4 separate regions of the Homo sapiens genome follow, and regions 2, 3 and 4 are each reported to be linked to region 1. The links are microRNA targets in miRTarBase. Many come from high-throughput screens and were not tested one by one. Region 1 holds a microRNA gene; each other region holds the end of a gene's coding sequence.
The links. Region 1 holds the annotated microRNA hsa-miR-204-5p (UUCCCUUUGUCAUCCUAUGCCU, at 3,907-3,928, opposite strand). A microRNA usually pairs through its seed, bases 2 to 8, with sites in the 3' UTR of a target mRNA and lowers its output. Matches are read on the target gene's strand: a 7mer-m8 pairs with bases 2 to 8, a 7mer-A1 pairs with bases 2 to 7 and ends in A, and an 8mer does both.

Region 2: the mRNA of ODF4 is a reported target of hsa-miR-204-5p. Seed matches in the 3' UTR shown: 7mer-m8 at 1,446-1,452.
Region 3: miRTarBase lists DNAJC16 as a target of hsa-miR-204-5p. Seed matches in the 3' UTR shown: 7mer-m8 at 2,302-2,308.
Region 4: the mRNA of SLC39A9 is a reported target of hsa-miR-204-5p. Seed matches in the 3' UTR shown: 7mer-m8 at 5,184-5,190 and 7mer-m8 at 2,804-2,810.

The regions. Positions count from the first base shown.
Region 1 is chr9:70,806,125-70,813,861 of GRCh38, forward strand. MIR204 (microRNA 204) reads right to left here and starts at 3,960; the gene lies at 3,851-3,960. The region is part of intron 6 of TRPM3 (transient receptor potential cation channel subfamily M member 3); the gene reads right to left.
Region 2 is chr17:8,344,514-8,352,250 of GRCh38, forward strand. It overlaps ODF4 (outer dense fiber of sperm tails 4), which reads left to right. Exons shown (of 3, transcript NM_153007.5): 2 at 830-964; 3 at 1,155-1,533. The coding sequence ends at 1,339. Among named protein-coding and RNA genes, the nearest start is that of ODF4, 8.5 kb to the left of the region's middle.
Region 3 is chr1:15,566,530-15,574,266 of GRCh38, forward strand. DNAJC16 (DnaJ heat shock protein family (Hsp40) member C16) reads left to right here. Exons shown (of 15, transcript NM_015291.4): 14 at 570-740; 15 at 1,249-5,204. The coding sequence ends at 1,648. It overlaps AGMAT (agmatinase (putative)), which reads right to left. Exons shown (of 7, transcript NM_024758.5): 7 at 5,170-7,195. The coding sequence ends at 7,122. Among named protein-coding and RNA genes, the nearest start is that of AGMAT, 15 kb to the right of the region's middle.
Region 4 is chr14:69,456,654-69,464,390 of GRCh38, reverse strand. SLC39A9 (solute carrier family 39 member 9) reads right to left here. Exons shown (of 7, transcript NM_018375.5): 7 at 2,001-6,028. The coding sequence ends at 5,798. Among named protein-coding and RNA genes, the nearest start is that of PLEKHD1, 24 kb to the left of the region's middle. RefSeq lists a silencer at 4,054-4,103.

The DNA of each region.
Region 1 (7,737 bases):
TCTTCATTCTTCTGCCTGCGATTTAGGACTTGAATGTTTGCCTGCTGGGCTGCAGCACGTGAAACTCATTACGCAGCTTTGAAACCTGGCCTCCAACACAGAAGGAGAACAGCCTGTTCATGAGGAGAAGTGCTGTTTGTTTCAGCTATGGGTGCCAAAAAAGAAAAAAAAATCAACTGTTCCTTATTTGGCCATTTTAGGGCATAAAATCTCTGTTTTCCTCATTTGCCTCAGGGGCTCATGATCCTGAGCTGGGATCTTAAGGGGTTCAAGGTTAACAAGTTTTTGGCCGGGACGGTGGCTCACGCCTGTAATCCCAGCACTTTCGGAGGATGAGGCAGGTGGATCACAAGGTAAGGAGTTTGAGACCAGCCTGGCCAATATGGTGAAACCCAGTCTCTACTACAAATACAAGAATTAGCTGGGCTTGGTGGTGCACGCCTATAGCCCAGCTACTCGGGAGGCTGAGGCAGAAGAATCGCTGGAACACGGGAGGCGGGGGTTGCAGTGAGCTGAGATCATGCCACTGCACTCCAGCCTGGGTGACAGAGCTAGACTCCGTCTCAAAAATAAAATAAAATAAAATAAAATAAAATAAAAAGAAAAAAGTTTTTATTCTGTTAACAGCTATGACAACTTTATTAGTGACATCTGGGAGCACTATTTATAGTCATTTCCCAAGACTATATGAATGATTCTTCAGTTTTACATCCATTAGTTTCAATGACTTGACATGATCTAAATAATAATTTGAAGAGACAAATAATTATAAATCCTAAGAAGGGACTTTGAAGGGTCCTATGATAAAGTCCCTGGTTTTAAGATGATTATCTCAAGCAAATTAAAATCTCAGCTCACTTTTCTTTAAGATCCCCAGGGAATGAGACACCTTATCTTCCCTAAATATATCTCACTATAAAACTGTTGATCATGGCAGAAAACTGCTCGGTCAGCATAAGTTTTCCCATTAATTTTATGTGTGTCTAACTTTCTAAAGTTAGCCATGCACTTCTACTAAATGGAATGATCCTGATCTGGACTGAAAAGCAACCATGGGCAATTATCATTTTGAATAAATGGAGGAAAATCAATAGTTATTTCTTTTTCCATGGAAATGGAAATACTGAGGCCACGGTGCACTGGCTGCTGTAAAATATGTATCATTAGACTCTCTAAATTCATAAGATATAAATGATTTACAACAATCATAATTCAACAGGAACACAGTCAACTTTCTCAGACTAAATGCTTTTATGCCCATGAATTGGAAGTATGCATGATGGTCTTTGCTTGTACATGTTGCTATTTATTTATCCTGAGTCTTTCTATGTCATTATTGCTTTATGATTTGTCCTTTTTTATAGCTTTTTAGTATCTAGTCGCTTCTATTACATCTTTGTGTCAGGTTGAAAATCAGAGCTAAAAATAAAGCCAGGGAAATCAAACAGTGATGCTTATAATAACAAGTTATTGAGCACCTACTTGCATAGGCTAGGCACTATGCAAGGTTTTCAGAATGACCACAATGAATAAGACACAGGCTGTGCTCTATAGGATCTCACAATCTACAGAAGATGAGAGACTGTGAAGGCAGATGGGAGACTATGAAGGCTCCATTCTACCAAAAGGAGCTGTATGTGGGAGAGGCTGATATAGAGCACAGCAAGAGCATGGAGGATGAGGTGAATGTGGGCCCAGGAGGATACCAGGGTATGAGCTGGAGGGAATACTAGGGATGGGAGTTGTGGTAAGATTACAGAGAGGAGAAGATTTTTAATCTGAGACTTGAAGGAATTTAGGTTTTGGCCAGGTAGTTAGAGTGAGAAGAGAATGAAATTTTAGTAAATGTCAGAAAGAGACAAAACCACATCCAGTAGGGTATATCATTTAAGGGAAACTGTAAGTATCTTGAAATGGATGGGACATACGATCTACATGGTGTTATGTTAGGAGAAGCTATAAAAACAGATGAAAAATATGAAAGGTAGTTAGCAATGAAATAAGGAAGATATTGGGTTCCATCAAGATAACAGGTTCCTATGTTATGCTAGGAACCTATTGTATCTGACCAACAACAGTAAACATTGCTGACTTTGAGACCAAAATGCCAGTCAAACATTGGCAACCCAAATCTTTCTAATCTGAAAAGGGAGCTCAAAATTCTTCCCTGAATGTAAAAGTGTCTAAGAAGTCTTAGAATGGTGGACAGCTCTCCTGTTGGGACCTACTTGTTTACAAGAACTATCCCAGTCCCTGAACAACTAATTCCAATGTAGAAAAGTCTCTTTGCTGAAAAAAGGGAGGTCTTTAGCTTGAATAGGAAAATGGGTGAGATAAACATGACAAGTCAATACCAAGAAACCAGTTTCGCTAAAATTTGCTCTGTTCCCTCAAAGTTATTTTTTTGGCTTCATTATTACCTTTATTGACAAAGTAACTTTTCATTAACAAGCATGACAAATATTTCAGTTACACAGCCAACTGTGTCAAGTCGTTTCATATAATGAAAAAGCAGGGATATAGATTGTGTTGTTTATTCCTCACAAATTATTCTTTAGAGGGAAGACCCTCTAAAAGGCGGAGAAAGCTTTAAACATGTTTACTTGACAGCACCTGAAAAATGATGTCATTACAGTCTAAAGTGAACTGATCATCAATTTGGTATTTGTGTTTTGGAAGGCCTTTCCCTTGACTGTTTGAGGCAGTAGAAAGTTTGCATGATTGGGCTGAACAGATTGTAGCACCCACAGAAGGAAATAAGATGTTCTTGATATACAGTCATGTGTTGCATAATGACACTTTGGTCAATGACAGACCACAAATACAATGGTGGTCCCATAAGGTAGTAATAGAGCTGAAAAAGTCCTATCACCTAGTGACATCTTGATGATTCTGACCCTGTGCAGGCCTAGTTTAATGAGTGTGTTTGTGTCTTCATTTTTAAGAAAAAAGTTTAAAAAATACAAAGATAAAAAATTTTAAAGACAGAAAAAAGCTCATAGAATAAGCAAATGAAGAAAATATTTTTGTATAGCTGCATAATGTGCTTATGTTTTAAGCTAAGTATTATTGCAAAATAGTCTAAAAGTTTTAAAACGTTAAAAAGTTTACAAAGTAAAAAAGTTACAGTCAGCTAAGGTTAATTTAGTTTTGAAGAAATAAAATTTAAAAAATAAATTTAGTATAGCCTAATTATACAGTGTTTATAAAGTTTACAGTAGTATACAAAAATATTCTAGCACTCACTCAGTGACTCACCCAGAGCAACTTCCAGTCCTGCAAGCACCATTCATGGTAAGTGCCCTATTAAGGTGTACTATTTGTATCTTTTATACTATGTTTTTATTGTGTCTTTTCTATGTTTAGATACACAAATACTTACCATCGTGTTACAGTTGCCTACAGTATTCACTACCACATAGTAACATGCTATACAGGTTTGTAGCCTACAAGCAATAGGCTATACTATATAGCCTAGGTGTGTAGTAGGTTATACCTTCTAGGTTTGTATAAGTACACTCTATGATGTTCATGACAAAATCACCTAATGATTCATTTCTGAGGATATAGTAACCCCATCGTTAAGCAATGCATGACAGTATATGTAACCTGTCCAGGGGAATCTTTGCTTCCTTTTCAAGTCACATGGTTTGGACCCAGAACTATTAGTCTTTGAGAGTATATTTCACTCCTTCCTAATTCCAGAGCTGCTTGGATGAAGTTCTACTATGACCTTTAACATACAGTGTTTTTCATCTCTCTTATGGGACAGTTATGGGCCCAATGATGGAAAATTTCATGTCATGGTTATCCCAATGCATTTGATGATGGTGCAATGATCAAAAAAGATGCCAGTGATGACAATTGAACGTCCCTTTGCCTTCCCAGCCTCCTTCATATATTCTCAGGCATAGGATGACAAAGGGAAGTCCACGAGTCACATGAAGAAAGACTGTAGCCATGGGTACGCGATCAGGAAGTCCTCTGCTTGCCTCCACCCCCACCCTCCTTTCCATCACCCTGTCCTATGGGTACATGATCAGGAGGTCCTCTGCTTGCCTCCACCCCCACCCTCCTCTCCATCACCCTGTCCTATGGGTACATGATCAGGAGGTCCTCTGCTTGCCTCCACCCTCACCCTCCTCTCCATCACCCTGTCCTGTGGGTAAATGATCAGGAGGCCCTCTGCTTGCCTCCAACCCCACCCTCCTCTCCATCACCCTGTCCTATGGATACACGATCAGGAGGTCCTCTTCTTGCCTCCAACCCCACCCTCCTCTCCATCGCCCTGTTCTATGGGTACATGATCAGGAGGTCCTCTGCTTGCCTCCATCCCCACGCTCCTCTCCAGCACCCTGTTGTATTTCTTCCTAATATTGTTTCTCCACCATCTTGCAACTAACCACCATCTTCTTCCCAAAGTTTTGCTTGATGACTCATTCCAACTGAATCAATGCTCAACCTATATTTGGCACAGAGTTGGTGCTCAAATAGTTGCTGAATGGAATAATGACCCTCAAACTCTCCAAGGTAACCAAACTTTAGGGGAGCCTTTTTAAAAAAATGAGATAATGCTTCCATGTGTAGGATGAAAGGAGAAAGTATTTTGGAATTATGTCAGCCTAGGTTTGCACCCAGCTGTGCCACTAATTGGATTTAAGGCAAAGGCTTAACCTCTTGGAGGTGCCATTTCATCAACTGTATAAAAGGAAGAAAATAATCCCTATCTTGAAGGGTTTTTGTGAGTATTAAAAGAGATAGTATATATGAAAATGCCTAGCATGGTGCTTGGAACCTAAATAAATGCTCATTCCCTCCTAGTAGTATCCCAATAGTGCCGTCAAGCTGTCCTATATGGTATCTTTAGGATGATAAATAATAGGGAGTAACTAATTTCTGATGTGGTTGAATGTCAGAAGAGATAGAGATAAAACAACAGTCATAGGGAGTGATACTGTTAGGAAATTATAAAGGAAATGAAGACTTCTGTGGTTAATTTCTTGGAGTTTAAGAAGAAATTCACATTTTCCATTAATTATACTTACCAACTGAGTCTAACTGGCAACTACCCCAAAATGAATAAAACAAGCGGGAGTCAAGAGAGAAAAACGGCAGGCATCCTGTCAAAAAATAAAATCTTTGAAATTTCTACACCCTGTGGTTGCATACACATTTTATTAAAGCAGATGGATTACCCAATTTACATAAATTTATATACGTGATGGCAACTCAAGTTGCACAGTGAAACCTATGTAGAGCATCATCCAGCCCTTCTGCACCAGCTATATCTTGTCTTATCACTCCTTCAACTGGACAGGTCCTTAAAAATCATAGCTCTTTGCTGGAGGAAGTATCATTCTTTATTCTCTTCCAGCCTAGATAGCTTCTGTGGTGTGGAAAGGGTCAAATGAGTTAATATCTGTTAAGTGCTTGTACTGATGCTTAGAACTTAGTAAAACCTCAAGAAATCTTAGTTGTTGTTATATTAATTATAATGATAATTATGAATCTTCCAATTCTGTGTTTTCCAGGAGACGATAGGAATTGAATTCTTTCCTTCCCTCCTTTTAATAACATTTTCCTGATTTCTAGAGAAATAAGTGTTCTAGTTTCAAGTGTTTAGCTACTTTTGACTTAAAAGAACTATCCATTTAGAGGCTAATCTACCCAGTTTCTTTTCTTTTCTTTTTAAAAGAGGAATTGAAACAAAGCTAACATGTTACTCAACATGCATAATATTATTAATTGGACTGATTCCTCTTTCTCTCTCTGGCCAAGGTATAGATATAAATATATCTACATCTATGACTATGTCTACATATCTTCCAAAAAAGTCATCAAAACCATTTCAGTATAATTGGCAGGTTTCCTACCAATTTGGTTATTGTTTCCCAAACTAGGAGATAAACTTAATGGTAATATCATATTTCTGGAGTTGCTAAGCAAGCTAGCCTTTGGTCAGATGGTCTCAGAGGAGGACCCCATGAGTATGAACAGCTCTGCTCTGCCTTCATTTTGTTCCTTCCTTAGAGACAGCATTAAGGGAAGATCCCAAATCCTCAAGTTAGATCTCTAGACCCTAGCTTCCTAGGATCAAGCTAGACTTTGAGAGCAGCCTCACTTGTGGCAAATATTGGGAAGTAGGAGTTTGGCAGCTGGTAGCTGGCTGGTGAGAGGCATGTAGGAACTCACCCACTTTTCATGAAACATCAACATCACTTGGTTATATGTCAGCACCCATACCCTGGCAAAGCTGCCTTCTCATAAGAATGTACTCACTGGGGAAAATGCAAAGCAATATCACTTGAAGCACAGCCTCTAAGGGTTGGTTCCTCTGGATTCTCAATAGTTTGTAAAATGGCCAACCAAGAGCAACTACTGTACATTTTCCAGAGAGTTCCTAATTAATGTGTTTCTGAGGACATAAATTCGGCTTTTAAGCACATACTCCCCAGGCCATTCTAGCACTGTGTATGGCAATTAGACTGCTGGCTTAATACTATCAGCAAAGTTTCAAATAGACAACACCACAAACCCTCCTGGAAATTTAGCACAAGCACTTGTTAATGGAACCAAGCACAACATTGGCTTAGCTATGTCTTTCCTGCAGAGTGAATGGCATGCTGGTATTTTCAGCTTCTTTTTCCCCCATTTATCAAACTCTAATGAAAAAAAATTAAGTAATACTTTAGTGAAGGTCAAGTGGGGTGAGATTAGTGGTACTATGGTTAAAAATGGAAATCTCTGGATAGCAGGTATGTGTTATGTCCGCAAATTGTCTCAATATTTTCTTAATTACCTTTCAGGACACAATAGAAAAAAATGGTCTTAAGGGGGAAAATTAGGAATAAAAAGTGAAACTAAGGTAGTGACACAAGGCTGGGCAAAGAAGAGCAGACAAGGAGTTTAGAGTTCAGGTTCAGATAAAAGCTCTACCAAGGTAATTCACGTAATGAATTTAGTCAGAACACGTGACTGTGATTTTTTTTACAAGTGGCTTTCCTATCTGCAAGATGAAAGCAATGCGCTAAGTGATGCTCATTGTCTGAATTCCTGTAGCACTTTATATTACTAAAGGGCACTTAACATCTACTGCTTTGTACTATTCACAATAGCAAAGACATGGAATCAACCCGGGTGCTCATCAGTGGTGGATTGGATAAAGAAAATGTGATACATATACACCAGGGAATACTATGCAGCCATAAAAAAGAATAAAATCATTATGTCCTCTGTAGCAACATGGATATAGTTGAAGTTGGAGTCATTATCCTAGGCAAATTAACATAAAAACAGAAAACCAAATATCACAAATTCTCACTTATAAGTGGGGGCTAAATCTTGGGTGCATACAAACATAAAGACAGAAATAATAGACACTAGGGACTCCAAAAGGAGGCAGGGGCTGAAAATCTTCCTATTGAGTACTGTGTTCATTATCTGGGGTGATGGGATCAATAGAAGCCCAAACCTCAGCATCATGCAATATACGCTTGTAACAAAACTGTACCTGCACCTCCCGAAACTAAAATAAAAATTAGAGAAAAAAAACACTTGCTGCTTTATAATGCAGCTCTTTGCATACAGAGAGGCTGTAGAGCACAGTGGTTGAGGCATGGGCTAAGAGGCATACTTCTTGAGCGTGCTATTTACTAGCAGTCTGACCTTGTGCCTCTTTGTGCTTCATTTTGTTTCTGGTAAATGGGAGTAATAAAGGTATCCCCTTAAGGGTTGTCA
Region 2 (7,737 bases), not on the chromosome of region 1:
TTTGCAGGCGGCGTCTCGCTCTGTTGCCCAGGCTGGAGTGCAGTGGCTCACCACAACCTCCGCTTCCCAGGTTCAAGCGATTCTCCTGCCTCAGCCTCCGGAGTAGCTGAGACTACAGGCATGCACCACCATGCCCAGCTAATTTTTGTATTTTTAGTAGAGACGGGGTTTCGCTATGTTGGCCAGGCTGGTCTTGAACTCCTGACCTTGTGATCCACCTGCCTCGGCCTCCCAACGTGCTAGGATTACAGGCGTGAGTCACCGCGCCTGGCGGTACATTTTCTTGTATTTGCTCATTTGATTATGTTTCATCTTTTGTAAATCCTTAGTTGATCTTGTTTGTTTGTCATTTTCCCCAGGCAGTTTTAAGCTGTGGACAATCAGCCCATGTTTAAGGTGGCTAAGTTAAGCTTCAACCTGACCCTGGGGCTGGGCCTCGTCCTCACCATCTGGTTGCACCTGCCCTACCTGCCCGCTGTTCAAAAATTGCCCTTTGTGGGCTTCGGGACCATCTTGAGCTTCTGTGAAGGTGCCTCCTAGCTCTGGAAAGGTCCTTTGTTTTCCTAACCCCCATCTTCCTGGGCACTTCTCCCTCTTCTTTGGGGGTGGTATGAGGGTTTTGTGGGTGGTGGGAGAACAGAACCGAGAATCGAGTTACATCATTTCTTGGTCACAGGAGAGGTAGAAATGCAGGGGTTGACTCCTGGAACCTCAGGGCCAGTCACTCTGTGTGTGGTGATGTGGTTTGTGGCTGTAGCCTAGCAGATGAGGAAGAACCTCCTGTGGGACTCTTGTATGACAATGAGACCCTCTGCCTCCTGTCTCCTAGTCACCTTCATCTTCTCCACCCTCATGCTATTCCCCATTAACATCTGGATCTTCGAGTTGGAAAGGAATGTATCCATCCCCATAGGCTGGAGCTATTTCATTGGTTGGCTGGTGCTTATCCTATACTTCACCTGCGGTGAGTGGCCAGAGGGCCCTGGGGGAAGGAAGCGACATGGGTAGGGTAGGGCAGGGAAAGTGTGGAGGGAAGAGGCTGGCAATCCCCAGGGCTAGATTTTTAGGGTCTTATCTTCCCTTTGGTCTCACCCTACTTGTCACTTAACCTCCCAGTCACAACTTTCCTCTCCCCTGTCCCTGTCCTTTCCCAGCGATCCTTTGCTACTTCAACCATAAAAGTTTCTGGAGTCTGATTCTGAGCCACCCCAGTGGTGCCGTGTCCTGCAGCAGCAGTTTCGGCTCAGTAGAAGAATCTCCAAGGGCACAGACGATCACAGACACCCCCATCACCCAGGAGGGAGTCCTGGATCCTGAGCAGAAGGATACACATGTGTAATCTTTTCTGAACTCCTGGCACCAAGTTCTGTCCATTCATCTGACCCCATCTCCTCATCCTCCCCCAGCCCTTGAATAGGTTGGTCCTCATCATTGCAAGGAATGAGAAAGGGAGGATTTTGCACTCCTCTGCTTTCTCCCTGCCTTGATTGAGCTTGAGTGATGTGGAATAAATTGTCCGTCTCTTCTTTCTCATATCTGGCTGTTGTTGAGGCAAGCTAGAGGAGGAGGGAGAGGAAGGGAGAAAGAACAAGTTTGTTTTCCAGTTCTTCCTGCCCAGGAGCCTTTTGGCACCCGTTAGTGCCTAAACCTGCCCAACCTCTACCAGAACATACTTGTACATGGGCAAACGCCTCTGGAGAGCTAAACCTCTTTTTACTTTGTTACCCCTGACCCAACATTTGCTAGTTAGTGGGTGGAGGAGGTAGAGCTGATTAGGAGACAGATATCACTTGCCAACTTGTTGGCTTAAGCATAGTGAAGGATTCAAAAGCCAAATGGCTCAAAGATAAGAGGCAGGTTAAACAAGGAGCACCACAGCACAAGTGGTCAGCCCAGGTGTGTGTCCTGGGCAGCAGTCCCACCCTCTGTGTCCAGCTCCGATGACAGAGCGCATAGAGCCTGTGCCCTGGAAACCACCACTACCACCATCCCCCCAGGCTGCTATAGCTTTCCACCCAAGCCTCCCACACCCTCCACCATGTAACAGCAGGAATAAAACATGGCAACAAAGGAAAGCATTAGGGTTAGGTCCTAAGACCAAAAGGTAAGTTGCATATTTGGGTTTTAAAGTTAGCTTGGGGAATGCTGGCAATGCCCATCAGGCTTTGGACATGTTGCCCAGAGAGGCCAGCCTCCTAGGAGAGCATCCATAGCTGATCTTGGTCATGTCTATCCCTCCAGATGAAACCACAATACATCCTGCTGATTGGTAGAGCCCAGTGGTCTGTTTTGATAGGGCGCTGATTGGTGCGTTTACAATCCCTGAGCTAGACACAAAGGTTCTCCACGTCCCCACCAGAGCAGCTAGATACAGAGTGTTGATTGGTGCATTCACAAACCCTGAGCTAGACACAGGGTGCTGATCGGTGTGTTTACAAACCTTGAGCTAGATACAGAGTGCCAATTGGTGCATTTACAATCCCTTAGCTAGACATAAAGGTTCTCCAAGTCCCCACCAGACTCAGGAGCCCAGCTGGCTTCACCCAGTGGATCCCACACCGGGGCTGCAAGTGGAGCTGCCTGCCAGTCCCGCGCCGTGCGCCCGCACTCCTCAGCCCTTGGGTGGTCGATGGGACTGGGCGCTGTGGAGCAGGGGGTTGGCGCTCGTCAGGGAGGCTTGGGTCGCACAGGAGCCCACGGAGGGGGTGGGAGGCTCAGGCATGGCGGGCTGCAGGTCCCGAGCACTGCCCCGCGGGAAGGCAGCTAAGCCCCGGCGAGAAATGGAGCTCAGCGCCGGTGGGCTGGCACTGCTGGGGGACTCAGTACACCCTCCGCAGCCGCTGGTCCGGGTGCTAAGCCCCTCATTGCCCGGGGCCTGCAGGGTCGGCCGGCTGCTCCGAGTGCAGGGCCCGCCAAGCCCACGCCCACCCGGAACTCCAGCTGGCCCGCAAGCGCCGCGCGCAGCCCGGGTTCCCGCTCGCGCCTCTCCCTCCACACCTCCCTGCAAGCTGAGGGAGCCGACTCCGGCCTTGGCCAGCCCGGAAAGGGGCTCCCACAGTGCAGCGGTGGGCTGAAGGGCTCCTCAAGTGCCGCCAAAGTGGGAGCCCAGGCAGAGGAGGCGCCGAGAGCAAGGGCTGTGAGGACTGCCAGCACGCTGTCACCTCTCACAGGGACAAATTGTGAGTGGATCAGGTATGTTAAAAATATATGTATTAGGTTGGGCCGCGTGAGGTGGCTCATGCCTGTAATCCCAGCACTTTGGGAAAACTAGGTGGGCGGATCACTTGAGGTCAGGAGTTCGAGACCAGCCTGGCCAACATGGTGAAACTCCGTCTCTACTAAAGATACAAAAATTAGCCGGGTGTGGTGGTGCATGCCTGTAGTCTCAGCTACCTGGGTGGCTGAGGCATGAGAATCGCTTGAACCTGGAAGATGGAGGTTGCAGTGAGCCGTGATCGCGCCACTGCAGATTGAACCATATATGTTGTGTTAGTAGTTAAATGTGGCAATTTTATATGGTTCAACCTAATGTATATGATCGACTTTATTTATTTATTTATTTATTTATTTATTGAGACGGAGTTATGCTCTTGTTGCCCAGGCTAGAGTGCAATGGTACCATCTTGGCTCACCGCAACCTCTGCCTCCCAGGTTCAAGCGATTCTCCTGCCTCAGCCTCCCTAGTAGCTGGGATTACAGGCATGCACCACCATGCCGGCTAATTTTGTATTTTTAGCAGAGACGGGGTTTCTCCATGTTGGTCTGGCTAGTCTTGAATCCTGATCTGCCCGCCTCAGGTGATCGGCCCGCCTCAGCCTCCAAAGTGCTGGGATTACAGGTGTGAGCCACCACGCCCAGCTGACTTCTATTTAATATGAGCCCTGTCTGAGATTCTTGTTCTTACCACACCTGATCAGCAATTGTAGCATTCCTAACCCAGGAAAGATTCCTAACAAAGGAAAGATTCTGAGCAAGGAACATAATACAAGGGCTTGAAAATTAGGCACAACAGATATTCCACAAATCTCTACTCTGTATCCCACTTTAATCCTCTCCCCAGTAGCGAACAAGGATTTACTAGGGGACTTACTGAACTAGTCATCCTGGAGGAAGGGACACCAAATAAAGGAATGTCATGGTCTCTGCCTTAGGTACAAACACACGTATGTATAATGTAATTAGAGAAACTGACTTAGTGATTTTGTAGGGGTCACAAACTCAAATGCATACAGGGGCTAGGTGGGTAACATAAATAAAGGGGGCCACTCTCACAGTCTGTATATAATTTTTCCCTTTTGATAAAGATCTGGTGTATTAGCTATTTATTGCTGGATAACAAATTACCCCACATTTAGTGGCTTAAAATAATAAATATTTATTATCTCACATCATATCTGAAGGCCAGGAATGTAAAAGCAGCTTAGCTGAATAATTTGTCAAAATTATTTAAAAAATTTTAAAAAACTTTTAAAAATTATTTTATCATATACAACATGATGTTTTGAAATAGGTTTACATTGTGGAATGGCTGAGTTGAACTAATTAATGTATGCATTCCCTCACATACTATTTTTTGTGGTGAGAACACTTAAAACCTACTATCTCAACGTTTTTCAAAATGCAATACATTGTTATTGACTATAGTCACCATGTTGTACAATAGGTCTCTTGAACTCATTCCTCCTAATTAAAATCTTATAGTTTTTTTTTTTTTTTTTTTTTTTTTGAGATGGAGTCTCGCTGTCTCCCAGGCTGGAGTGCAGTGGCGCGATCTCGGCTCACTGCAACCTCACGCCATTCTCCTGCCTCAGCCTCCCGAGTAGCTGGGACTACAGGTGCCCACCACCACGCCTGGCTAATTTTTTTGTGTTTTTAGTAGAGACGGGGTTTCACCGTGTTCACCAGGATAGTCTCGATCTCCTGACCTCATGATCCACCTGCCTCGGCCTCCCAAAGTGCTGGGATTACAGGTGTGAGCCACCGCGTCCGGCATTTTTTTTTTTTTTTTGAGACCGAGTTTCACTTTCATTGCCCAGGCTGGAGTGCAATGGTGAGATCTTAGGTCACTGCAATCTCTGCCTCCTGGGTTCAAGCGATTCTCCTGCCTCAGCCTCCCGAGTAGCTGGGATTACAGGTGTGTGCCTCCATGCCCGGCTGATTTTTTGTATTTTTAGTAGAGACGGGGTTTCACCATCTTGGTCAGGCTGGTCTTGAACCTCTGACCTCAGGTGATCCACCCACCTCAGCCTCCCAAAGTGTTGGGATTACAGGCATGAGCCACCACACCCGGCAATCTTATAGTCTTTGACCAATATCTCCTCAGTCACATCCTCCCCCAGCCCCTGGCAAACACCATAATACTCTTTGCTTCTATGTGTTTGACTAAATTAGATTCTACATGTAAGTGAGATCATGCAGTATTTGTCTTTCTGTGCCTGGTTTATTTCACTTAACATAATGCCATCCAGGTTCATCCATCTTGTTGTAAATGACAGGATTTCCTTCTTCTTCTTTTTTTTTTTTTCTGTTGAGACGGAGTTTCTCTCTTGTCGCCCAGGCTGGAGTGCGATGGTGTGATCTTGGCTCACTGCAACCTCGACCTCATGGGTTCCAGCAATTTTTCTGCTTCAGCCTCCCAAGTAGCTGGGACTGCAAGTGCCCACTGCCATGCTTGGCTAATTTTTGTATTTTTAGTAGAGACAGGGTTTCACAATGTTGGCCAGGTTGGTCTTGAACTCCCGACCTCAAGTGATCCACCCGCCTTGGCCTCCCAAAGTGCTGAGATTACAAGCATGAGCCACCACGCCTGGCCTGTGGACATATTTTATTACCATTACATTTTGGTATAAAAAATATCTTACAATAGGAGGGCATAATTAGAAATGGCAACTGGAATTTCATTTTAATTTTGGGAGACAAGTGGGATTGGGATATCCCGGAAAACTGCCTTATGTAACAGGGGAAGGTGCAACTCAGCTCCATGGGTTATTGCTGTGAGGAACATTTGTCATATGGAGCTGCTCAGCATTCATATGGTTTTCCTATTTGGGGAGAATGTCAACATAAGTGGGAAGTGGAGTCGCTTCCAATTATAGAAGGTGCAGGAGGGGAAGACACACCTGGGACCGCTCTCAGGCAGTCAGAGTGCCAACGTATGACTAAGATTATTCACCTGCGGCAGGGCACGGTGGCTCATGCCTGTAATCCCAACACTTTGGGAGGCCGAGGTGGGCGGATCACTTGAGGTTGGAAGTTCGAGACCAGCCTGACCAACATGGAGAAACCCTGTCTCTACTAAAAATACAAAATTAGCCGGGCGTGGTCATGCATGCCTGTAATCCCAGCTACTCGGGAGGCTGAGGCAGGAGAATCACTTGAATCTGGGAGGGGGAGGTTGCAGTGAGCCAAGATTGTGCCGTTGCACTCCAGCCTGGGCAACAAGAGCAAAACTCCATCTCAAAAAAAAAAAGATTGTTCACCTGCGACTTTGTATCCTTTTCATTAAGTGCAAAGAATTAAGGGAATATTGGAATCACTGTAGTCCATGCAGGATCCTGCATCCTGCAGCAGAGGTGACAGGGCCATTGTCTAGGGGGGACAGCACAGGGTTTTTCTCCCAGAAAACTCATGTGGCATGACTAGGGTTGTAGCTCTGGCTGCTTAGCCTCCCTTGGTTCTTACTCCTCTAAGCCTGTTCTTCAGCTTTCTGTAAGTTATTTCATATCCTTCCTTTTCTGCTTAAGTTAACCAGGGTTGATTTCTGTTGTATACAACCAAAAACCTTAAATAGAATATTTGCTAGAGCTTCTGATTTTTTCAAAAGATGCCGCCAATCCAGATGTTTTTATAAATTCTGATCTTTAAATTTTATTACTATAATTTTTTTTTAGAGAGAGACTCTTGCCCTGTCACCCAGGCTGGAGTGCAGTGGCATGATCATGGCTCATTGCAGCCTCAAACTCCTTGGCTTAAGCAATCCTCCTGCCTCAGCCTCCTGAGTAGCTAGGACTACAGGGATGTGCCACCATGCCCGGCTAATTTTTATTTACAAAACGTTTTTTGGGCCAGGTGCGGTGGCCCATGGCTGTAATCCCAGCATTTTGGGAGGCCGAGGCGGGTGGATCACTTGAGGTCAGGAGTTCGAGACCAGCCTGCCTAACATGGCAATACCCTGTCTCTAATAAAAATACAAAAATTAGCTGGTCATGAGGCCGGGCGTGGTGGCTCATGCCTGTAATCCCAGCACTTTGGGAGGCCAAGGTGGGCGGATCACCTGAGGTCGGGAGTTCGAGACCAGCCTGACCAACATGGAGAAACCCCATCTCTACTAAAAATACAAAATTAGCCAGGCGCAGTGGCACATGCCTGTAATCCAAGCTACTAGGGAGGCTGAGGCAGGAGAATCGATTGAACCTGGGAGGTGGAGTTTGCGGTGAGCCGAGATCGCGCCATTGCACTCCAGCCTGGACAACAAGAGTGAAACTCCGTCGCAAAACAAAACAAAACAAAACAAAACAAAAAAAATTAGCTGGGCATGGTGGCGGGTGCCTGTAATTTCAGCTACTCGGGAGGCTGAGGCACAAAAATCACTTGAACCCAGGAGGTGGAGGTTGCAGTGAACCGATATTGTACCACTGCACTCCAGCCTGGGCAACAGAGCAAGACTCTGTCTCAAAAAAAAAAAAAAAAAGTGTTTTTGGAGATGGTGGGGGGGGGATCTCATCCTGTTGCCCAGGC
Region 3 (7,737 bases), not on the chromosome of region 1:
ACATAGACTGAATGATAGTTGTCTTCTTCATTCTGTCCTAGAGCAACTTCTGCACCTGAAAAGCAGCATCAAGCAGGGCACAGTGGCTCACGCCTGTAATCCCAAGACTTTTAGGAGGCCTAGGTGGGAGGATTGCTTGAGCCCAGGGTTTGAGACTAGCTTAGGCAACATGGCAAGACCCTGTCTCTACAAAAAACTTATAAAATTAGCTGGATGTGGTGGCAGGCACCTGTAGTCCCAGCTACTTGGGAGGCTGAGGTAGGAGGATCACTTGAGCCCAGGAGGTCGAGGCTGCAGTGAGCCATGATCATGTCGCTGCACTCAAGCCTGGAAAACAGAGCAAGAACCTATCTCAAAAAGAAAAAGAAAAGCAGCACAGAAAGGCTGTTTGTAGGTCAGGGATTACCAAGTCAGGCCATCCCCATCCTACCAATGTGTTAGACTCAAGAATAGTGAATAACATACCTAGTCTGGTTAGAACATAGCATTTTCTTTCAGCTGTTTCTTTTCAAAGTAACGGCTTTCCCCCTATCCTGACAGCATCTTAACTCCTCAATATTTCTCCACAGCAAGATTCCTAAAAAAGGCTTTGTGGAGGTAACTGAACTCACAGATGTAACATACACCAGTAACTTGGTACGTCTGAGGCCAGGCCACATGAATGTGGTCCTCATCCTGTCGAATTCTACCAAGACCAGCCTACTACAGAAATTTGCTTTGGAGGTCTACACATTTACTGGGTAAGCATGTGTGTGTGTGCATGTATGTATGTGTGTGAGAGAGAGAGAGGCAGGCACACTGAAATTGCACGCTTTTCTCTTTGGTCTTGTGGGGCTTCATCCATACAGCAAGATGCTGGCTGTGACCTTTCCAATCCAGACATCTGAGCCATTGCGACAGGGACCTCTTTTCCCACTTCACTTCGTGTTTTGTTGGTTCTGAACAGAAAAGCTTGAACTCAGTGTTATTCCCTGAGCCCTTTCAGTTACTGTTCTCTAGCCCTTGTGTATTTTCCAGAAGAGCAATGTTAAGTTCCACCGAGCAAGCGATGGGGGAATGGGTGATTGAAGTGTCGCAGCTGCTGGAGAGGCACTGGCTCCCACAGAAGGCCTTCTTTTTCTCTGTGTTCAGGCCCCATCCAACACAAAGCGTTTTCCTATTATTTTAAGTCTCACTGGGGTATTTATTTTCTCAGCAATTAAATGTGTCAGGAAATGCCCTGAGTCCTCAATTCTCTTCTTCCTACAGGAGCAGCTGCCTACACTTCTCCTTCCTGAGTCTAGATAAACACAGAGAATGGCTAGAATACTTACTAGAATTTGCTCAAGATGCAGCTCCAATCCCAAACCAATATGATAAGCATTTCATGGAGCGTGACTACACTGGTTATGTACTGGCTCTGAATGGCCACAAGAAATACTTCTGCCTCTTCAAGCCCCAAAAGACAGTCGAAGAGGAGGAAGCCATAGGGTCGTGCAGTGATGTTGACTCTTCCCTCTACCTGGGTGAATCTCGAGGGAAACCTTCCTGTGGCCTTGGATCCAGGCCCATCAAAGGAAAGTTGAGCAAGCTCTCTTTATGGATGGAACGCCTGCTGGAGGGCTCCTTACAGAGGTTTTATATCCCATCATGGCCTGAACTAGACTGAGAGGATTTTCCAAAGAGATTTGAACTCTTCAGACTTTTTAACATGCCCCTGTGAACAGGTATTTTCAGGACTCAAACTACCACAATGAACAGAGTATAGATTTTAGATTGCTCTTCTAGAACCATGGCTAGAAGAATCTTTCCTTTGTCCTGTTCTAACCTAGGAATGAAAAACACCACCAGTTTGAATCGCCTAGATGAAAATCTTTTCCTCTGGGTGTTATTTTTCCCCACTGAATGCCACACCATTGAAAATAGACTGCTCATCCCCTCTTCCTTTCTTGTCCTTGTCCCATGCTCACCCCACCCTCCTGTCCTGTGTCTTGGAGAAGCACAGGGCTCCACCCTGCAAGCGGCATCTGGCGGACCCTCATGAGCCTGTCGTGCAGGCCAGGTCATTGGCCCCTTCCCCAATCCCGGCCCTGCTGTGCTGCTGCCATGGCGCATGCTCCTAACTCTGAACAACCCACGGCAGCTTCTAGCCCCGCATCTGGAAAAAGGCCCCTTTCCAAGCAATCTCACGTTTACTGGTTGTTCTGGGAGTAAGTGGCTAAATGTATATTTTGGGGGTATCCCCCAACAACAGTTTGTTGGCCACAGGTTGAAAAGGAAAGGAATAAACGGGAGTTCTGCATGTGAGTTCTCAAGAAAAGGAAAGGGAGGCTGAGCAGTGGCTGAAGCGATGCAGCCTTGAGACACGCTGTGAGCATCCCATCCGCCGCCCCAGCGCTGCTGGTAGCCAGGGGAGGGGTCTGCACAGCGAGAAGTACTGTGATGACTTTGAGCCGTTGACATGTATGTCTTCAGATGCCTTTCTGCCTCTGTCGATTTTAGGGTATGGATATTAGGAGCCATAACTTGTAATCTTGTTCTCTGAACGTAGAGATAAGCTGCTATAAAGCCAGTAGATGTTAAACTGAAGAGAAATTATTCCCACCTGCTATGAGTCAGGCTTAAGGAATCTCTTCAATAGTGTCTCTTTAGTAAAATACCAAACATGTCTTTGTATCAAGGAACTTAAAATTTCTCAACAATTGTATTTTGAACACTGTTACCCTAAAAGTGCTGTCTCTTCAAGTCATCTTTTGCAGGAAGTGAGCCAAGATTTGTTCTAGACTCCCATTTTGCAAAAGGCTTACTTTCCACTTCTGGGCTGTATTTTGATGTCTCATCTTCATTGTTTTCACTCTTAACTTAGAGCTGCTTCACCAGTATTGGGGTCAGACTGGCCATCAGCACCTGAGCGTGCTGAGCTCCAGGTATAGTGGACCCCAGGGTGCCTCATACCAGCCAGTTAGAGAGCATACCTTTTATTTTTCAGGGCAGAATGACCAGTGGTTCTGAGTTTGAGTTTGGACAGCTTCAAAGAGTGGTCCGTTCAAATGTCAAAGCAAGGTGCCTTTGGTGGCTTTGTGAAGGGTGAAAATCAGTGATGGGACATTTACTAAGTATTTCTTTTTTTTTTTTTTTTTTTAGTTGTTGAGACAGAGTTTCACTCTTGTTGCCCAGGCTGGAGTGAAATGGTGCGATCTCGGTTCACCGCAACCTCCACATCCCAGGTTCAAGTGATTCTCCTGCCTCAGCCTCCTGAGTAGCTAGGATTACAGGCATGTGCCACCATGTAATTAGCCCGGCTAATTTTGTATTTTTAGTAGAGACGGGATTTCTCCATGTTGATCAGGCTGGTCATGAACTCCTGACCTCAGGTGATCTGCCTGCCTCAGCCTCCCAAAGTGCTGCTGGGATTACAGGCGTGAGCCACCACTCCCGGCTAAGTTAGTATTTCTTTAATCTTAATGCTTTAAACTAAGCCACTTGGATCCTGAATAATTTAAATCTTGAGCTACATTGGTAAGTAATAAATTATTTAAGGCCAGGAATTCCTGTAGTTTTCATGGAGTCTGTAGCTTTATTAAAAAATAAATCACTGCCAGGCTTCATTCTTCCATATGATCCTCTAAAAATGGACACTTCCTCTGAATGCTGTATCTCATGGCACCTGGTCCAACTAGAAATGGTCAAGGAATTCATTTGGCTCCTTGATACATCAGTCCTCAATATTACTTTCTAGGTATTTTATGGCCAGATTGCTTATATGAGTGGTCTTTTGGTTTGGTAGTAGGTTTTTATTTTTAATTTCTGTACTAATGAAATTCCTGACTTTAATTTCTGAAAACCAAAAACTCTCCAAGTGTATTTATTTATATTTTTTTTAATAGAGACGAGGTCTTGCTATGTTGCCCAGGCTGGTCCCAAACTCCTGGCCTCAAGCAGTCCTTCCACCTTGGCCTCCCAAAGTGCTGGGATTATCAATATGAGCCACCATGCCAGATTTGTTCATTTTTAAACATTTTTATCTCTTCAAGTCATCTTTTGATCTTTTAAAAAGCACCTTCAAACAGCTGCACCTTCCATTTGCACTAGGAAATGAAGGTAGTGATGGGATTGGCAATGTTCCTGGCAGATGTTTCAGCCCAAAAGCTCTTCTACAGACCGGTTTAGAGCTGGTGCCCTATGAGAATATTAGGGAGCTTTTATTTTAAATTGAACTTTACCCTTGTCCATGCAAGGCATTCCTCCTGAATGCATCCATGAATTTGTTTACTTTTGCGTCAAACATATGAGCCATTGTCATGCTCAGCCTGTGCCACCATTGCTCTGTCTGATGTATGTAATCATACAAGACCTGATTTTGGTTCTAACACAGTGGTCTTTGACTATCAACATTGATGTTTTTAGAGATGGGTTCTTCTGGTTGATACAGACTATGCATTGCGTTTAGCAGATGGGGTAAAACTGGCCTAAAACAAGTCTTTGCAGAATACATGCCAATTTCCAAAAAAAAAAAAAAATTTGTTGCTCAGGTGTTGCACAATTTTTATCTAACACTGAGGCTATCAGCTCCAACTAAACAACATTTCAGTGGGTGAGGCTGCCCTAACTTCCATTAGGGGCCATGGTCTCACTGCCATCACTTATTAGCCATGAGAATTTGGTTGTAGTTTTCAGGTAGGTTGGTTTCTTCCTCATTTGCAGCTTGTTGATACTTGTTCCTTTTTATTTATTAACATCCCAATCAATTTGCAGCTGCCATCATTACATAAATATTTTTCTGTTATAAAAAGAAGTGTGATCTGTTTTTTTAGTGATTTCCTTTGTTTGGGAATAGAGATTGGAAGCACATACTCAGACCTGTTTTGTTAACTAGAATTCTTTAAAAGCTGATGCCAAACATCTTTACAGAGGAACTGTAGTTCACATCCACCTGTCTGACATTGTCCCCTAAAAACAAGTGCAGTGTGGCAGCTGCTGAATCTGTCTGTTCAGTTTGTCAAGGAGGATAATTATGCTTGGGAGAGATCTGAAAAGAAGGTGAATATTTTGCACTTTTGATACTCTTAGGAACAAATAACTTATTTGGCAAATTGTTTCTTTTTTATGTTTTGGGTGTTGTTTTTGTTTTTTGACTTTTTTTGTATTGTGAACAGGCACTGAAGCTGATGTTATTTTAAGATTACAGAATGGAAAAAGAAATAAACTATTTTAATGTCTGATAATTATGGGGTAGCCCTTGCATTGCAAGATGATGATTTGATTATGGACACATTATCAACAGAATTGAATTTGCATGGAACTCAAGACACGCTTAAGATCACCACAGCATAACTGCAGATTTCAGGAATTACAGTCATAGAGGGTACATCAACTTGAAGAGTAGATTGAGTCTTACAGGAAGTGAGTTACAATAAGTAACATTAAGAGCCCAGCTGCCAGCCTGGCCAACATGGTGAAACCCCGTCTCTACTAAAAATACAAAAATTAGCCGGGCGTGGTGACGCATGACTGTAATTCTAGCTACTCAGGAGGCTGAGGCAGCAGAATTGCTTGAACCCAGGAGGCGGAGATTGCAGTGAGCTAAGATCGGGCCACTGCACTCCAGCCTGGGGGACAGAGCGAGACTCCATCTCAGAAAAAAAAAAAAAAAAAAAAGCCCAGCTGACATTTTCCAGTTTTGTTTTGTTTTCTGGGGTTTTTTTGTTTTGTTTTGTTTTGTTTTGTTTTTTAGTAGAGACGGGGTTTCACCATGTTGGCCAGGCTGGTCTTGAACTCCTGACCTCAGGTGATCCTCCCGCCTAGGCCTGGGATTACAGGCGTGAGCCACTGGGTCCGGCCTGCTTTTTTTTTTTTTTTTTTTTTTTTGGAGACGGAGTCTCACTCTGTCACCCAGGCTGGAGTGTAGTGGCATGACCTCAGCTCACTGCAACCTCCACCTCCCGGGTTCAAGCAATGCCCCTGCCTCAGCTTCCTGAGTAGCTGGGACTATAGGCACGCGCCACCACGCCCAGCTAACTTCTGTATTTTCAGTAGAGATGGGTTTTCACCATGTTGGCCAGGCTGGTCTCGAACTCCTGACCTCAAGTGATCTGCCCACCTCCGCCCCCCAAAGTGCTGGGATTACAGGCATGAGCCACCGTGTCCAGCCTTAGGTTTTCTAGTTTAGAAGACATTTTGTGTACCCTTCTAGGCCTCTGAGCAAGAAGTTTCTTCATTAGGCTCTCCGTGTTACTTTATACTTTTTACTTACGTTCACAGTGGTCCTAAAACCAAGATGCAGCCCTAAGCACCTCATAGGAGAAGCTGTATTTTTTTTTTTTTTTTTTGAGATGGAGTCTTGCTCTGGCACCCAGGCTGGAGTGCAGTGGTGCGATCTCAGCTCACTGCAGCGTCCGAGGAGGAGCTGTAGTTTAAAGGAAGATACTCAATACTCTAGGAAGCAGATCATCAAAATTTTAAAAAGCGGCTGGGTGCGGTGGCTCATGCCTGTAATCCCAGCACTTTAAGGAGGCTGAGGCGGGCGGATCACCTTAGGTCAGGAGTTCAAGACCAGCCTGGCCAATGTGGTGAAACCCTGTCTCTACTAAAAATACAAAAATTAGCCAGGCGTGGTGGCAGGCACCTGTAATCCCAGGTACTCAGGAGGCTGAGGCAGGAGAATCGATTGAACTCGGGAGGCGGAGGTTGCAATGAACCGAGATCATGCCATTGCACTCCAGCCTGGGTGACAAGCAAAACTCTATCTCAAAAAAAAAAATGTTTAAAAGGAAGATATAGAAATATGGAATGCTTATACAGTATTATTTCATAGTTTTTTTAAATGTCATGTTTCTAATGTTTAGATAATCTTGAAAGAAATTCTCCTCACTTCCCCTTTATCCTCCATCTTTCATCAAAGGAAAAAAAATCAAAGCAGTACAAGTACTCCTTTTTTTTTCCCCCAATTAATCCAAGTTCCTTAGAAATGTTGCTGTTTGGGTGAGAATTCTACTGATTATCCCGACTTCACAGCCAGCAATGACACTTTCAGCAGAAAGTTTTCTTGGCATAAACTCTTTAGTTCTCAGACTGCTTACTCATAAGTTCTTCTTGAGAACTTGTCAGCGACGCAATCTGTTTTGTCTTGAAGAGCACAAGACTCAGACGGTTGTCACTTTGGGGAGAGCACATAGCATCTCAAACAGCAGGTTAGCCGCCAGCAGGGCTGTGTTCCCTAAGAAAAAGTAAAACCTCACATGAATACCCTGCAGACGACCCGCTGAGCCAAGCCTTGGGACTCCTCAGCTTTCTCTTCCCCTTGTGCCTCCTTTTCCAGAGCCCTGTCTTGTGCACCCCTCTAGGGTGCCCGCCAGCTGTGAACACGCTTGCCCAGGCTCTCTGCCTCCATCAAGCATCATTTGGGAATCATATTTTAAAATTCAGAAAGTTCTTTGTTTACTCTGAGAACAGATTTTTCCCAAAGGAGAACCTATAATAATGATGTGTACTGTATTATCTATCCTCTGAGGTCGATAGGCCTAATTCCATAAGTTTGTCTACATTAAAATTATTGGGATGGCGTCTGCTTTGAAGATCTTAACCAGCTAAGTTCCTATTTGATAAATATTAACATATATTATTTATGCTTTAGAATTCACTTTGCAATGAAACATCAAAGGAGACGGGGATTGGGCCACCCTGTCACTAGACTACAGGCTGGTTTCTTTCTCTTCTGCTGATTGGTGGGCAAGCTAATGATACTTAACTACCTCCTGG
Region 4 (7,737 bases), not on the chromosome of region 1:
GTTTTTTGAACTTTCAAATTTCTGATCTGGTTCAATCAAAAAGGAACCTCCAATCCAGGTTAATCACTGGAATTGATTATTTCATCTCTTCAGACTCTCTTAATTTAGAACAGAATTCTTCCTTTTTTTTAAGTGAATTTTTTGAGACAGAGTCTTGCTCTGTTGCCCAGGCTGGAGTGAAATGGCGTGATCACAGTTCACTGCAGCCTTGACCTCCTGGGGTCAAGCAATCCTCCCACCTCAGCTTCCCAAGTAGCTGGGACCACAGGTGCATGTCACTATATCCAGCTTTTTTTTTTTTTTTTTTTTTTGAGACAGAGTCTCGCTCTGTCACCCAGGCTGGAGTGCAGCGGCGTGATCTCGGTTCACTGCAAACTCTGCCTCCCGGGTTCGCGACATTCTCCTGCCTCAGTCTCCCGAGCAGCTGGGACTACAGGCGCCCGCCACCACGCCCAGCTAATTTTTTGTATTTTTAGTAGAGACGGGGTTTCACCATATTAGCCAGGATGGTCTCAATCTCCTGACCTCGCGACCCACCCACCTCGGCCTCCCAAAGTGCTGGGATTACAGGCGTGAGCCACCGTGCCTGGCCCCAGCTAATTTTTTTTTTTTAATTTTTTGTAGAGATGGGGGTCTCACTGTGTTGCCCAAGCTGGTCTCAAACTCCTGGGCTCAAGCAATCCTCCCACCTCAGCCACTCAAAGTGGCTGAGATTACAGACATGAACCATCACACCTGGTGACACTGACTTTTAAAGACTTTTTATTGAGCTATGACATAAGGTAAAAAGCACAAATCATGTGTACTGCTTTTTCACCTGCTATAACCCTGTAACCAGCACCTAGATTAAAAAACAGATCAGGCCGGGCGTGGTGGCTCTCGCCTGTAATCCCAGCACTTTGGGAGGCTGAGGAGGGCGGATCATGAGGTCAGGAGATCAAGATCATCCTGGCTAACACAATGAAACCCCGTCTCTACTAAAAATACAAAAAATTAGCTGGGCGTGGTGGTGGGCACCTGTAGTCCCAGCTACTCGGGAGGCTGAGGCAGAAGAATGGCGTGAACCTGGGAGGTGGAGCTTGCAGTGAGCTGAGATCACACCACTGCACTCCAGCCTGGGCTACAGAGCAAGACTCTGTCTCAAAAAACAAACAAACAAAAAACAGATCATGTGAGCAGGAAAAAATAAAATAAAAATGACACCAAACAGAAAAGGATTGGTGGCTATTTTGGCTAAGCCCAGGTGTGTGTGTGTTTTGATCTCAGGGAAGCCTCCCGAGTAGCTGGGATTTACAGGTACCCCCCTACCACACCTGGCTAATTTTTCTATTTTGAGTAGAGACGGGGTTTCACCATGTTGGCCAGGGTGGTCTCGAACTCCTGACCTCAGGTGATCTACCCACTTCGGCCTCCCAAAGTGCTGGGATTACAAGCGTGAGCCACCATGCCTGCCCTGAGCACAATCTTTGTAACTAGCTATACATGTAACTATACATATAGAAAACCAGCACAAAGTGGGCCAGTAGTATTTAATGAAATCTAATGACTAACCATAAGTCCACAGAGGGAGAAAAACATTTATCAAATTCACACGTCACGTTTCTAATCAAATCTCTTTAATTTCCAGGGTCAGTTGTTCATAGCATCTATCTACTCATATAACAACTCTGCCCTATGAAATGAATCCACTGTGGTTTGGATCTGTTGCCTCTTTCTCTTTTCTGAGAGTAGAGAGAGCTACCTTCGTAAATAATATTTGCTAACAACAGCAAGGCAAAAACAATTATCAATGCATTTGTGTCTTTCAGGGCAGATTGGTCTATCAAGTCCTTAATTTCCCCTCTCTCCTTTCTCCCTCCCTTCCCTAAAGGATGTGCCTGTGGTAGGTACATCTTTCTACCATCCATCACAACTTTTCATTCTCTTTTCTGATGTTCAAATACAGGTCAATTCTGGTCATCAAACAAACTGCCAAAAGGATAAGTAATGAGCCACTCAGATTAAGGTATGCACTAATAAAAATTTAATATCAGAAAACAGCATTTTTTTAACCATTCACAATTAAAGTGGAAAGAGACAAAATTATAAGGCAGCCATCCATGGAATGATTTCATGTTTACAAGGGATCCAGAAAAAGGGACATTTAAAATCACTGTTCCAGCTATTGAACCAGGGGAACTGCAGTCTTATCCCATGAGACTTCTAACTTGCTGGAAGATGCCACAAGAAAAAAAGATCAAAGCCAATCTCCTTGTGTTAAGCCACTGGGTTAGGCTGAGTATATCTAGAGAATTCCTAAATGGTTGTCTAGTTCTTTCCCACAAGTTACACATTTCCTTCAGGCCTCCTGAGGTGAATCTAGATGTCTCAGGTACAAAGAGGTTTTAATTTCACAGCATCTCCAACAGTGCACTTTGGGTGATGTGGACCATTCTGTATTGAGCAGAAATTTTCTAATGGAAGGAAGGTTCCTCTGCAGAACAACTACAGAGGATTTTCACTTAACACTGCAGCAGTTCTGGATGAATCTGGTCATGATTCTCAGTCTCCCAAGGGGCTCAGGGGCCCACAAGGCAGGAACATCCTTTGGGGGTTTGTGCTGCTGTCATACGGTTCCTGTGTTCAGTCCCTAGCTACCATGTGTTTCAGGGGCTTAATACACTCCGATGCTGGTGTGTCCTCTTAGTTCTAATCCTTGAAAAAGAGAAAAACCAGGCAGTGACACTTAGAAGTAGGCTGGTAAAAAAAAAACACAATCACATTTTCTCCTTTCTGCAAAGAAAGGACAACTCAAAACAGCCACTCCCTTTCTTTTCTCTAATGATTCAAAATACCAGAACAGGGCTCACTTGGCTGTTTTGAATTGGGAAAGAAAGAGGTGAAAGCGGGGAGAAAGAGAAAACACATAACCTCTAGGTAGGTAGTACTGTTTCCAACTGTCTACGTTCCAGTGCAGAATCTTTGCTAAAAAAAAATTTGGCAATAGTGTGCACAGGAAAACTGAATCAAACCTGGAACATCACTGCTTTCTTGAAATGGAACTGACAAGCAATTAACTGGAGAATAAGTGAGGGGAATGGAGCAGTAGTATTCTTTAACTTAATTTGCCATTTAAGAGAGCACTTGGAATCTGAAGAAAGTCTATCCCTACCAAGGAAACGGAGTCAAATTGCAATTAAGATTAACTTTGGTTATATGGAAGCAAGAATCATGCTTCTCATCATCAATTGCGTCTCTTTGGTAGCCAATAATTCCATCTGTAATCATGGCAGCAACTTAAGTATTGCCAATGTTTTCAAATGTGTTACAGCATTAAGGCATCCACATCTAAAGAGGCAGTTTTAAACAAGAGGAAAACGGAACTGAAATGTGCCAAGAAGTGAACACGGACATGGCCTCTCCTGGAATACTGCCCACCATGCCAGCAAGCTCTTCCTCCAGTCAAGAAGGCCTGTGCCACGCTGCTTGGTTCCCTGCTGCCTGAAGATGCATTTGAGCCCTATGAGATTAGTATGGCTATTTCTGTCTGCTGACCAGGAGAGAAATGAGTAGTTCTCGAGGCAGCAGCTTTAAAATCTGGGAAAGCCCATACATAGCTTCTGAGAGCTAAGAGGGCCCTGAAAGGTTTGCTTGTTAATAGTGAGGTCCAGAGGGGAAGGCAAATTTGGAAGTCAGATGGTTCAATCCTTGCCGGAGTTCAAGGCTCCATCCAGCAAGATATACTAGCCAAACTTTTAAGCATGATGGCAAGGCACTGCTGAAAGAGGCTTTGGCCAGTAGAACAAATTACCATTGCACACAACAATATGATAGAAAGCACTACTGTCCAAACCAAACCAGACACTACAATCTGCTATTTATTTGACAAAGTCAGTTTCCAGAGAGAATCTAGGCAACCATATAGTTTTGAAGGACTAGATGAAACCTCAAGTCTCACACCAGTCAGCTGTTAACATCCAATCAAGGAAGTCATTTGGACTTTCCATACTATACCTTCTCTTGGTAGTAAAATTGTATGCAATTGTTGCCAATGACTACATACAACTGTATCCTATTTGTGCTACTTTCCTCACTGTGGCCAGCAGAGGGCTCACAAGCTTTATTTCCACAGCTGCTGATCCAGTGACAAATTCATGAAGGAAATAAATCATAGGCATGCTAGCTTATGCGTCATAGAAAACGTTTTTACAAACTACTACGTCCACTGCCCTGAAGAAACTAGTCTTGGTTCCCCCTTAGTGTAATGTGTTTTGAAATGGTATAGAAAGTAAAAATAAATTAATAATACAATATTATACACTTATTTGACAAGACAGGGTTTACAAAAATTTTGGCAAATATGAAAAAAAAATTATCCTAGTCTGTTAAACACTTTTGCTATCTCAATTGTTTAAATTACCAGATTAGTGATTGTGTCAATTTACACATGAGGAGGTGGTATTTTAAGGGCTCAACAAAGCGGCATTTGACACAAAGGTAATTTCTTTGAAGGGGGATAAAGAATAAAGATATTATTATCTTCATTATTACAGTTCGAGAAGTGGTTGTCCTGATAAGAATTCATCCCACACAAATATTAACACCAGCAGTAAGCAGCAAATTGTGGCGAGGAGAGGCTAGAGGGAAAAGTTAGAAGAAAAGCAAAGAAAAGACGAAGAGACAAGAGACATGATTCCAATAAGCTTTAAATCAATAGGCAAACACTTCTCATTTATGATCCATCTTGCTACAGGTGGTTATGTGAGAAGACACAGTGTCGCCAAAGCTGACCTAGTATTTAGGTCCCTAGAGGGATTGCTGATCTGCTAAGAGAAATAATTAAAAAAAAAAAAAACAAAAAAAAAGGACAACCATACATTTTGGTAGTCTTTTAAAAAAAGCTACTACAAAGATATCAATAACCATCCAAAAATCACTTAAAATTTAATATCCCTTAATTTCCAAAGACACTTTGTGATCTGACTGTTCTTGAAGGAAAGCCTAGAACTGAAACTACTAGAACTTGGCTCCTCTCTAGGAATGTGGAGACAGGTATTCTGCAAAGGAGAACTTGACAAGGAATGCTACAAAATACCAGTCACCTCTTTAGAAGCTCCTCCCACCTCTCCTGCTCCATTTGATGGAATGGCAGGCTGGATTCAGAGAGGCACGTGCCAAAGGAGCTGTTTAAATCCCTCTAGACATCCCTTTTCAATGGATATCTCTTTTGAGTATAAAGAGAGCTTTCAATGTGTCTTGCTATCATTTTCCTGACCCTAATCCCAGATTAACTAGAATCACCTTTAGCATCTAAGTGAGTGGGTGCTATGACCTTCCATCAACGCATGTGGCATAGATGCTAAAGCACCAGTCTTACATGGTGGGAACCATGTTAAAAATCAATGGATAAAGTAGCAGAGCCTCTAAACTAAGAAGAAAGAGACATAGCTTAATTACAGAACACTGTATTTTCATAATCACTATTTCATTGTGAGTATGAAGTTCTCCTCTTTTCCTTAAAACTAAATTCCATCTTCCCTGAGAATAGGGTTAAGAGAAATATTAAAACGCAAAATGTCAAGGGCCTTTTAAAAGATAACACAATGGGATGTCTATAGCTAACTGCAACGTAAATGTGTTTCTACTCTAAAAGCTTTTCCATTACTCAGGTTTTAACCTCACCTCCCCTCTGGACTCTAGGAATACATGTAGAGATGCGCAAGGTGAGACAAGAGACTGAGGAAGTGAGTAGCTGTCACGTGCCGGCTGTTCTCACTGGATGGCAAACGGCCCTGGACCAAGGCTGGACCTTGAACATTTAATGCTGGTGTCCTACTGACAGGATGAGAGGGATGAGGCAACCCAGAACCAGGGCTGCCACTTCCAGGCGGCTGAGGCCTCTCCCTCCCGTGGCATCGGGCTTGTGGCTGTGCCCTATTCCGCCCACCTCAGGGAGGACATGTACTGTGGCAACATAAAGAAATGTCCCGGCAGAGAAAAGCATGGCCACTCCCGTGGCGTTCACCTCTGAAAGGGCTTCTTTACTGCTCTGTGAATTAGAAGAGAGAAAGAGGAAAAACTAAGTCAAGTAAAATTCAGGGTCAGGAAGAAGTCCCAGTTAAAAAACACTCACTGTTCTTAACTGGTGCTGTCTAGGACACTGGGGACATCTAGAGAACACAGCAACTTTAAGTTATTCATGGGAAGCTTCCAAATAAGGGTTTAAGAATATCAGTGATGTACGCAATTGATTTTTTAAAAAATTTATTGTAAATCAACAATTTATAATTATATATATTTATAGGGTATAAAGTGACATTATGATTCATGAATAAAATGTGGACTAATTAAATAAAACTAACATCTGTCATCTCAAATATTTATCATATTTTGTGGTGAGAACATCTGAAATTTACTCTTAGCAATTTTGATATGTACCACACACTATTATTAAACTATATTCACCACAGTTCCATCATTCTGTCCATCCATTCATTGACTGTATCTGTCTTTAGAGATGAGGTCTCGCTATGTTGCCCAGGCTGGAGTTGAGTGGCTATTCACAGGCACAATCATAACACACTACAGCCTGGAACTCCTGGGCTCAAGCAATCCTCCTGTCTCAGCTTCCCAAGTAGCTGGGACTACAGGTATGCGCCACTGCTCCTGGTTCACAATTGCTTTTTAAAACGAACTTTAAGTGCTGGTTCAACAGGTTTGGCTTGTATTATTCTTGAGATAGAATCAACAATATATTATTGCAGATATTAAATTTCAGACATAAATTTATTTATTCTACTAATATTTAACAAGCATCATCTATGCACCAGGCTCTGGGCCAGGTGCTTGAGATACAGTGGTAATCAAGATGCAGTAGTTGACCTCATAGAGCCTAGAAATATCTCTTAAGCAGCCGGGCGTGGTGGCTCATGCCTGTAATCCCAGCACTTTGGGAGGCCAAGGTGGGCGGATCACGAGGTCAGGAGTTCGAGACCAGCCTGGCCAACATGGTGAAACCCTGTCTCTACTAAAAATACAAAAATTAGCCGGGCATGGTGGCGGGCGCCTGTAATCCCAGCTACTCCGGAAGCTGGGGCAGGAGAATCGTCTGAACCTGGGAGGCAGAGGTTGCAGTGAGCCAAGATTGCGCCATTGTACTCCAGCCTGGGTGACAGGCAAGATTCCATCTCAAAGGAAAAAAAAAATGTGTGTGTGTGTGTGTGTGTGTATATATATGTATATCTCATAAGCTAATCTTTATAAAACTAATTTCAACCTTTTCTGTTAAAAAAGTAGACCTATGGACTAAGACAACTAATTAAAATTTTAAGAAAAGGACATCCCATAGATGCAGCAAGTAACTCCATGTCTCCAGAATTATCAGCACCTTCCTGTCAAAAGGTTAAAAAACTGACACTGATTACTGAAGTGATAGAGTAATCTGTTAAAGGGAACAACATACTGCTCACTGAAAGAAGAGAAGGCTCTTCAGGTAAATGGAAAGGGTTTTTATAACACACTCTTAGCATCTAAGATCAACAAACCCTTGCTTAACAGGAACTTAGCCATTCTTTATCTCATTTTTCACATGTTCCTATTAATATGGGTTTTACTGCCAAATACTGAATTGACTGATGCTCAGAAGAATCAATGACCTTTAGAGAGGGTGTTGGGGAAAGCAGTTCCCATCAACTAGCCCTGAGTCAGTTTGCTTCTAAGATTTTCCTCCAGTTGCCTGCCAGTTGACATCTGGGTAAA